Linked DNA regions of Homo sapiens. The protein of the gene in region 1 interacts with the protein of each later gene in a pairwise test. Each region holds a gene or a part of one and is shown on either strand. Other genes may lie near its edges.

Region 1 (5,612 bases):
GGGCATTTGTCAACCTGTTTGCAGTTTCGTAGACCACAAACATTGTATGTGTCTGCAGACTGGATTTCTTTTATGTAAAATAAAGAATTCAAACTCTCTCAGGCATTTTTCTGTGCCTTTCAGATGGTCTAAAAAATTCTGCAAGAGAGTGCTCCAGGTAAATCCCCGTATTTCTCTGGGACCCAAGTGGGCAGCTGCTTGGTGATCTGGACTTCCTGCCATAGGGGCTGTTAGTTCTTGGAGCCCTGGCTGGGTGTGTGCCCTCAGGGAGCGTTTGGTTGGAGGCATCAAGGAGGTTTGCTTCCTGTGCTCCTTACCAGCTGTGGATTGAGTGCTTTGTGTGATGCTTTGCCAGAGAGAATCCACAGCTCTTTGAGGAGAGGTGTGGCACAAAGCAGGGAAATATTTGTCAGAGCCTCAGACCTCCTGCTGCCCCCCACCTGACTCCAGGAGCAGGAGCAGGAGCTCTGCCAACTTTCCCTTTTCCTCTAGGTGCTAGGATTTTTAAAACAAAGAATCAATCTATCCAAAATCCAAACCATGTACAAATACTCCAGGATAGTGCTTGTTCTATTCAACTTGTTTACATTACTTTTCATGACAATCTTTTATTATCTTTAGCAGCCTATTTTGTTTGCCAGTGTCAGATTGGTTGTTTGTTAACCGATTAGAGGAATTCTTTACCTGCAGCCCTGGGGTGGGGTGGTTGGCTAGTAGGTCCTTCTTGCTGAAGCATTGAAATCCTACTCAATTTAGTTCTTCACTTTAAAAAATGGAAATAATTTTGGTTACCTATAATGTCGCAATAAACTCTAGAGTCAAATGTTGGAATAATTTCTTCAGATTTATAAACCAGTAAACCGGTTCAGCAATGTTTCTAGCTTAAGCATGTTGATATCTTCAGATGGGCACATAAAATTATGTAAAATACATTTTTACATAATTTTACATTATGTAAAAATGTATTTTACATAATTTTATTTTGAGATAATTATTTTGTTTTAAAAATATTGGGCCTGGAATATTTTAAATATTTAAGTTTTATAATAGGGAAGAAACTATTGCTTTTACATGTTTACTTTCATCATTTATTCTGTAAAATAGGAATAGTAATGACTACCTCTGGGGTGTGACCTGAGGGTTCAAAGAGATGATGTACATTAAAGACTCTGCCTGGTTCACCACTGTGTCATGATTCCATAAATCTTTCTTTAGATACAGATTTACAAAGGAAGTACTAAGCATGGGCTGTGGTGTTTTGCACCAAGTTGAATTACTTCTTGACACATTGCCACGTGGTGGTGCACAACTCAGAGATGACTGTCACTGTCAGCCTGGCCTGTCACAGAATGCTCATATCTTACAGTTGTGTTTGATTTGGTTGATAATGTCAAGATAAAGAGACAAATTTCCCTGTAAGTTTAACTCAGCCTACTTTGCAATCTGGAAATTTCCTCTTACACATTAATAGGAAAATGTCCAACAGTACAGTAGAAAAGTGGACAAGAGTTAGGAACAAGAAAGTCGTAGAGGAAGAAATCTGAATGGCCAATAAATATATGAAATTGTGCTCTACTTCATGTGAAACCTTTTCATGCATCAGCTTGGTTAAACATTTAAATGACTGCCAATGTTCAAAGTAGACAAAGGTTTGGAAAATGACTTAATAGACTTTTGTGAGAGAATAAAGTGAGTACAGAGTTTTTAGAGAGTAATTTAATACTGAATCAATTAGGAACACATTTGGCTGCAAGTAACAGAAAACCAGATTTACTGCAGCTTAAACCAATAGGAGTTTATTCTTCCCACATAATAAGCTGTCTGAGGTAGGCTGCTGATAGCTTTTTCAGCAACTCATTGATACCAGGGCCAACATCATAGTGATTCTCCTGGTTTTCCCTCATGTTATAGCATGGCTGCCACCCTTCCAAACACCACAGCCACCTTTAGGGCTGGAAAAAGAGTGCCAGTCTTGTGTATTCCTTTTACCTGGAAAGCAGAAACGCAAAAACATTCCTAGGGACCACCCAGAAAACTTTGCTGATGTTTAATTGGCCAGAACCAGGCCACATGGCTACCCCTTGCTGCAAACAGAGTGAGGAAAGTGAGTTTCCAGCTTTTAAACCAGCCTTTGCTGTGGGAGGCAGGAGGGGAGAAGATTGAAAATAGGTGGGAACAGGTATTGGTTCAGCCAAACAGCAGTATTGACCACACATTGAAAGCTCCTGTTCTACTTCTGAGTTTCTGTTCTAGAGAAATAACCTCATTTGTGCTCAAAGAAACATGTACAAGGATTTTCACTTAATGGCTACATTGCTTGCAATAGCAAGTATTAGAACCATCCTAAGTGTCAGTAGGTGAATGGTTAGGCTATGATACATCATTAGCAGAATACTGTGAGGCAGTTGAAAAGAATGAGCTAAATTAAATCTAAACATACAGATAGGTGAATTTTCAAGACATTTTAAAGCAGGAAAAATTTTGAAGAACAGTATAAACAGTATGGTTCCTACCTTTGTAAAAAAAAAATCACACATACACACAACTGTATATTTGTTTAGAAATACAGAAAAAGTAATATGGAAGGAAATAAGCTGACAACAAATATTCCTCTGGGAGAAGACTGGACAACAAAGATTCCTCTAGGGAGAGGAAACTTTGCCTTTTGTTTAAATATTAATGAAATATACTCATTTTACAGATGAAATTTTTTAACTAAAAAAAGAAATTTCCCATAGCTCTTTGAAGGGAAAGAAATAATTTGAGGGAATTGAACAATAATAAAACCAAAAAAATCTCAATTAGTATGCAGTATTAGCAAGAACATATCAATGACATCTAAACAGTTAATTATTTTGTAAGCTAATATGTGTCCTTGATGAGATTTCTGCAGGAAAATTTGTTTGGGCAGATATTTTTGCCTAAGGTGCTAGGTGTGTTTCCTTTAAATGTTTGTAATACTCAGTGTTAATTCAGAAACTTTAAGCTTTGGGCTGCTAACAAAATTATAGCAAAGAGAAGACTTTTGGAAGCAATAATTATTTCAGATGACAGAAGCAGATTTATAGTAGATTCAGACTAACTTTTTTATATTAAACTTTTTATTTGGAGATAACTGTAAATTTACATGCAGTTTTAAGAAGTCACAGAGACTTTCTATGCCCTCTACCCGGTTTCTCTTATTACTGACATCTTGTAAAACTGTATAGTATCACATCAGGATGTTGACATTGATATAGTCAAGGTATAGAAAAATTTCATCATCAGGAGGATCCCTCCTGTTGCCCTTCAGAGTCACACTGCTTCCCTCCCATGCCCACCCTGCTCCATATCCCACTGGTGACCACTAATCCACTCTACATTTCTAAAATTTTATCTTTTTAGGAACATTATCTAAATGGAATCAAACAGTATGTGATCTTTTGGAATTGCTTTTTTTCACTCAACATAATTATCTGGAGATTCATCCAGGTTGTTCCTTGTATTAATCTTTTTTTTTAAATTGCTCAATTGTATTCCATGACATGGATATACCACAGTTTGTTTAACCATTCACGCTTTGAATGATCTGTACATTGTTTCTAGATGTTGAGTATTATGAATAAAGCTGCAATAAACATTGGTATACATGTTTTTGTTTGAACCTAAGTCTTCATATCTCTGGGATAAATGCCCAGTGTGCAATTGCTGGATCATATGGTAGTTGCATGTTTACTTTTTAAAGAAACTGCCAAACTGTTTTCTTGAGTAAATGTAGCATTTTACATACCCACCAGCAATGTATAAGTGATCCAGTTTCTCTGCATCCTCACCAGCATTTGGTGTTGTCACTGTTTTTAAAAATTTTTATTTTGAAATAATTATAGACTCGAAAGAAGTTGCAAAAATAATACAGAGAGGTCCCATGTACCCATCACCTAGTGTCCCCTAACGCTAACGTCTTATATAATTGTATATTTCATTATCAAAACCAGGAAATTGACATTGGCAAATACAGTTGTTTAGACTACAGACCTTACTCACATTTCACCAGTTTTTGCATGAATTCATTTTTTGTAGCTTTATGCATCTTTAACACATTTATGTTTGTATAGCCACCATCACAAGCTACAGAACTCGTTTGTCACCACAAAGGAACTCCTTTGAGTTACCTTTTTCATTTCTTTTTTAAAAACTGATATATAATATTTGTACATTTTTCTGAGGTACATATGATATTTTATATGCATAGAATAGTGTAATGATCAAGTCAGGGTATTTAGGGTATCCATCACCTTGAGTAATTATCACTTCACTATTTTTCATATTAGCCATTCTGATATGTGGTGGTAGCTTATTACGGTTTTAATTTGCATTTCCCTGATGGCTAATGATGTTGAACATCTTTTCATGTGCTTATTTTTCTTCTATATATCTTCTTTGATGAGCTGTCCCTTCATGTCTTTTGCCCATGTTCTAATTGGATTTTTTTAAACCGTCAAGTTTTGAGAATTTTTATATATTATAGATATTAGTCCTTTTTCAGATATGTGGTTTGCAAGTATTTCTTCTAGCCTATAGCTTGGCTTTTCATCCTCTAAAGAGCCTTTTTCAGAGCAAAAGTTTTAAATTTTGATAAGGTGCAATATATAAATATTTCCTTTTATTGATTGTGCTTTTGGTGTCAAATCTAAGAACTCTCTGCCTAGCACTAGATCCCGAAGGTTTTCTCCTACGCTTTTTCCAAGTTTTATAATTTTACATTAAATTTAAGTTCATGATCCATTCTGAGTCCATTTTTTAATAAGGCGTGAAACTTTGGTTTGGTTTTTTGTCTCTGAGTGTCTGGTTGCTTCAGCTACATTTGTTGAAAAAGTTATCTGTCCTTCCTCCTTTGAATTTCTTTTGCATCTTTGTCAAAAATTAGTTGGGCATATTTATGTGGGTCTGTTTCTGGGTTTATTTATTTTGTCCCACTGATCTATATGTCCATCCCCCTGCCTATACTATATAATCTTGATTTCTGTAGCTAAATAATAAGTCATGATATAGAGTAGACTGATGCTTCCAACTTTTGTTCTTTTTCAAAATTGTTTTAGCTGTTCTAGTTTTGTTGCCACATTATGTAAATTTTACAATACTCTTGTCTATATCTACAAATATCTTCCTGAGATTTTGATAGGAATTTAATTAAACCTGTGTATCAATTTGAGGAGAACTGACATCTTTTCTAGATTAAGTCTTCCAATCCATGAACACAGTACGTCTCTCTATTTATTTAGATCTTTGATTCTGCCATTAGGCTTTCAGCATACAAGTCCTATTAATATTTTATTAGATTTACATCTGAGTGTTCTTTTTAAACTATACATATTTTAATTGATACATCATAGTTTTACATATTTATAGGGTATATAATCATATAAACACATTGCGTAGTGATCAGATCAAGGTAATTAGCATATCCATCATCTCAAACATTTATCATTTCTTTGTGTTGGGCGCATTTATTATCCTCCTTTTAGTTATTTAAAACTATATAGTATTGTTGCCCATAGTTATCCTACAATGCTGTAGAGTGTTTATTTTTTAAGCGACTATCAATTGTATTTATTTTTTATTTTGGTGCCCAC
Region 2 (4,151 bases), on another chromosome or scaffold:
TCATTACCATATGCTCAAGAAAAACGGTTCCATTTAGGACAAAATTTCGTTTTTATCATTGTAAGCAAAAAGTTCTCTTTTGATGTGGTGGGCGTGTTTGTTTCCAGTTGTGTGGTTAATGCTGATGTTGTTGGAACTGATACATTCCCCTTCTGGGATGCTGGGATGGGGACTCTTTCTCTTGCCAACCCTGGTGATGAATTAGAGGGTTTTGTGTGTGTGTGTGTGTGTGTGTGTGTGTGTGTCTTTAAAAATGTCTAGTTGCCAACATTCCATGGGCTCTTTTCTGATAACACTGAGGCTGTTTGTGCTGTGGTCTGCACTTTTTGCCCCCTCTCAGCAAAACCACATGTCATAGAATAGTTGTTGGCTTCTGGATGTGTGAGCAGAACTGCCCCACTGTGCCAGCCCAGTGGAGGCAGAGAGACCCACAAGTTCCCAATTTAGAAAGCTTTTCATAGCTTCAGAACAGGGGTCGGCAACTGCTTTCTGTAAAGGGCCAGGGAGTAAATATTTTCAGCTTTGCCGGCCCTGTGGTCTCTGTTGCAACTTCGCCACTGTAGCCTCAAAGTAGCCACAGACAATATGTAAATAGATGTGTTCTAGTCTGTCTTCTAGTAAAATTTTATGGATCCTGAAATTGGAATTTTATATAATTGTATATAAATTTTATTCATTTTAATCCTATAAGATATTCTTCTTCTTTTGATTTTTTTTTTCAACCGCTTACCAATGTTAAAGACCATCTTTAGCCCTCAGGCCATACAAAGTCGTCTGTGGGCACCCAAGTCGGAGGAAGTGTCACCCTGGGGTGATCCAGAGGGCTTTTTGCAGCACCAGCACTGGATGCCTTGGGGAGCAAAGGACACTTTCTGAATCTCGAACCTTCAAAACTTTGAAACTTAACCGATATTTTCCTGAAGTTTCCTTTAACAGTGCATTATGGATTTAACATACATGAGTATGTCTAAGCCTTTTTTGAACCTGTTTACATTTTCAACTCGGAGAGCTTCTGAGAGTAATCAGTTACATCTGTTAAATTACCCACTGAATGAAGAAGTATTCCCCTTCAATTATCCCCGAAACTACAATAGTAAAATGTAATTCAGAAAATAAATATTCATAGTCTCAACTACTTAAAGGGGGTCTGGGGACCCACAACATGTTACCGGTTTTCATTTTGCTGGGGCTCGCATTTGAAGCAAGGGCTCTAGTGAGGAGGTGGTGTAGACTCAGCGGGTTATTTAGGTCCGTGTGAAGCCGAGTTGCCTGCCCAGCACCTATAGCTCAACTAGGTTTTATTGTTCTCTACCTGTCAATAGTTGATTTATGATGGATTCCAAGAGAAAAGCTAAGGACAGCCTGGGGTACATCAGACGTGGTCTCAGGGAGGTCTTCGTGGAAGTCAGGTGGGCTGGGTCTCTGTTCACCTTCTAGGGGTCTCCTGTCCTGTCCCACGTCCAATACCCACATCTCAAGAGTTTGTGTTTGAAATAAAACTCTTCTCTTCCCTTCTTTCAGGAATACTTGGACCTCAGTCAGCCTCTCGAACCGTATTCACCTTGTTATCCTGACCCAAGATGAAATAAAACGTCTCTCTTCCCTTCTTTCAGGAATACTTGGACCTCAGCCAACCTCTCGAACAGTATTCACCTAGTTACCCTGACACAAGAAGTTCTTGTTCTTCAGGAGATGATTCTGTTTTTTCTCCAGACCCCATGCCTTACGAACCATGCCTTCCTCAGTATCCACACATAAACGGCAGTGTTAAAACATGAATGACTGTGTCTGCCTGTCCCCAAACAGGACAGCACTGGGAACCTAGCTACACTGAGCAGGGAGACCATGCCTCCCAGAGCTTGTTGTCTCCACTTGTATATATGGATCAGAGGAGTAAATAATTGGAAAAGTAATCAGCATATGTGTAAAGATTTATACAGTTGAAAACTTGTAATCTTCCCCAGGAGGAGAAGAAGGTTTCTGGAGCAGTGGACTGCCACAAGCCACCATGTAACCCCTCTCACCTGCCGTGCGTACTGGCTGTGGACCAGTAGGACTCAAGGTGGACGTGCGTTCTGCCTTCCTTGTTAATTTTGTAATAATTGGAGAAGATTTATGTCAGCACACACTTACAGAGCACAAATGCAGTATATAGGTGCTGGATGTATGTAAATATATTCAAATTATGTATAAATATATATTATATATTTACAAGGAGTTATTTTTTGTATTGATTTTAAATGGATGTCCCAATGCACCTAGAAAATTGGTCTCTCTTTTTTTAATAGCTATTTGCTAAATGCTGTTCTTACACATAATTTCTTAATTTTCACCGAGCAGAGGTGGAAAAATACTTTTGCTTTCAGGGAAAATGGTATAACGTTAATTTATTAATAAATTGGTAATATACAAAACAATTAATCATTTATAGTTTTTTTTGTAATTTAAGTGGCATTTCTATGCAGGCAGCACAGCAGACTAGTTAATCTATTGCTTGGACTTAACTAGTTATCAGATCCTTTGAAAAGAGAATATTTACAATATATGACTAATTTGGGGAAAATGAAGTTTTGATTTATTTGTGTTTAAATGCTGCTGTCAGACGATTGTTCTTAGACCTCCTAAATGCCCCATATTAAAAGAACTCATTCATAGGAAGGTGTTTCATTTTGGTGTGCAACCCTGTCATTACGTCAACGCAACGTCTAACTGGACTTCCCAAGATAAATGGTACCAGCGTCCTCTTAAAAGATGCCTTAATCCATTCCTTGAGGACAGACCTTAGTTGAAATGATAGCAGAATGTGCTTCTCTCTGGCAGCTGGCCTTCTGCTTCTGAGTTGCACATTAATCAGATTAGCCTGTATTCTCTTCAGTGAATTTTGATAATGGCTTCCAGACTCTTTGGCGTTGGAGACGCCTGTTAGGATCTTCAAGTCCCATCATAGAAAATTGAAACACAGAGTTGTTCTGCTGATAGTTTTGGGGATACGTCCATCTTTTTAAGGGATTGCTTTCATCTAATTCTGGCAGGACCTCACCAAAAGATCCAGCCTCATACCTACATCAGACAAAATATCGCCGTTGTTCCTTCTGTACTAAAGTATTGTGTTTTGCTTTGGAAACACCCACTCACTTTGCAATAGCCGTGCAAGATGAATGCAGATTACACTGATCTTATGTGTTACAAAATTGGAGAAAGTATTTAATAAAACCTGTTAATTTTTATACTGACAATAAAAATGTTTCTACAGATATTAATGTTAACAAGACAAAATAAATGTCACGCAACTTATTTTTTTAATACTCGTGTCTTACCAAATGGTTTCCTGTGCTTGGAGGTGCTGACTGAGTGCTGTTGTGAATGCAGGAAGGGCAGGGCTGCCAAGGGTCTTATGTGCTACACACGGGGGTGACTTGCCAGAGGGGTTGACTGAGACCAGCAGTACCTGTGACAGGTTGAGGTTGATCCAGTGGAAAATCTGAATCAGTTGGTTGGAGCCCTGGCTCGGTTGCTTACTGGCACCTCAATGGAATCATCGTTCCTTTCTGAGCCCTACCAGTTCCCCAGAGGAGCAAACAAAGAGCCACATGGTAGAGAGCTTTGCAAACTGGAAGGTGACCTAAGGATGACAGGTATTGAGTAGGGAAGACGTTCAGAACATCTGAATCCTGGGGACTTAAAAACCTTTTAGGCTGTTTTCTTCATGATGTATGGAGAGAAGGATTTGCTTCAAATTTTCCAAAAGAAAACTTGGACAAATGTTCGAATAATTATTTATTTTCATACCACCAACGATCTGAAGAGGGAAATGGAGTTTTGCCTGTCAGTTAACAAATGTGAATCTGTGACTCTTAAGGGTCTGTTGTATCTACTTGCCAGCCTCATCAGCAGCAGGAAAGGGAATTGAACATAGGCCAACTTCTCCTGCACTTCAGCCAGGCTCTTAGAACCTTACAGGGCCATTGGTAAAGAGTGCTGTCTTTGGGGTCTTCTTTCTGTTTGAGGCCATTCATGGTGGAGCAAGGTGTCACCAGCCATCAGGGGAGTGGCCTAGGGTCCTGGTTCTGTATTTCCCAAACCTCTGTCCTTCTGTTTCTTACAGGATAACAGGGCTCTTGGGAATGTGATTTTAAAAATAAGGTGCATGA

Evidence for each region. The genes of interacting proteins can lie anywhere in the genome.
Region 2: the proteins of CTDSPL (region 1) and FGFR2 interact in a two-hybrid assay, tested with the Homo sapiens proteins (one study listed by BioGRID and IntAct).

What each region holds. Positions count from the first base shown.
Region 1 is NC_000003.12:37,863,801-37,869,412, forward strand, and holds part of CTDSPL (CTD small phosphatase-like protein), read left to right. Parts: intron 1-5,612. UniProt on the Homo sapiens protein: Recruited by REST to neuronal genes that contain RE-1 elements, leading to neuronal gene silencing in non-neuronal cells.
Region 2 is NC_000010.11:121,477,484-121,481,634, reverse strand, and holds the end of FGFR2 (fibroblast growth factor receptor 2 isoform 1 precursor), read left to right. Parts: intron 1-1,521; coding exon of another isoform or gene 1,522-1,584; exon of another isoform or gene 1,585-1,613; coding exon 1,614-1,778; 3' UTR 1,779-1,964; coding exon of another isoform or gene 1,965-2,054; 3' UTR 2,055-3,303; downstream 3,304-4,151. UniProt on the Homo sapiens protein: Tyrosine-protein kinase that acts as a cell-surface receptor for fibroblast growth factors and plays an essential role in the regulation of cell proliferation, differentiation, migration and apoptosis, and in the regulation of embryonic development.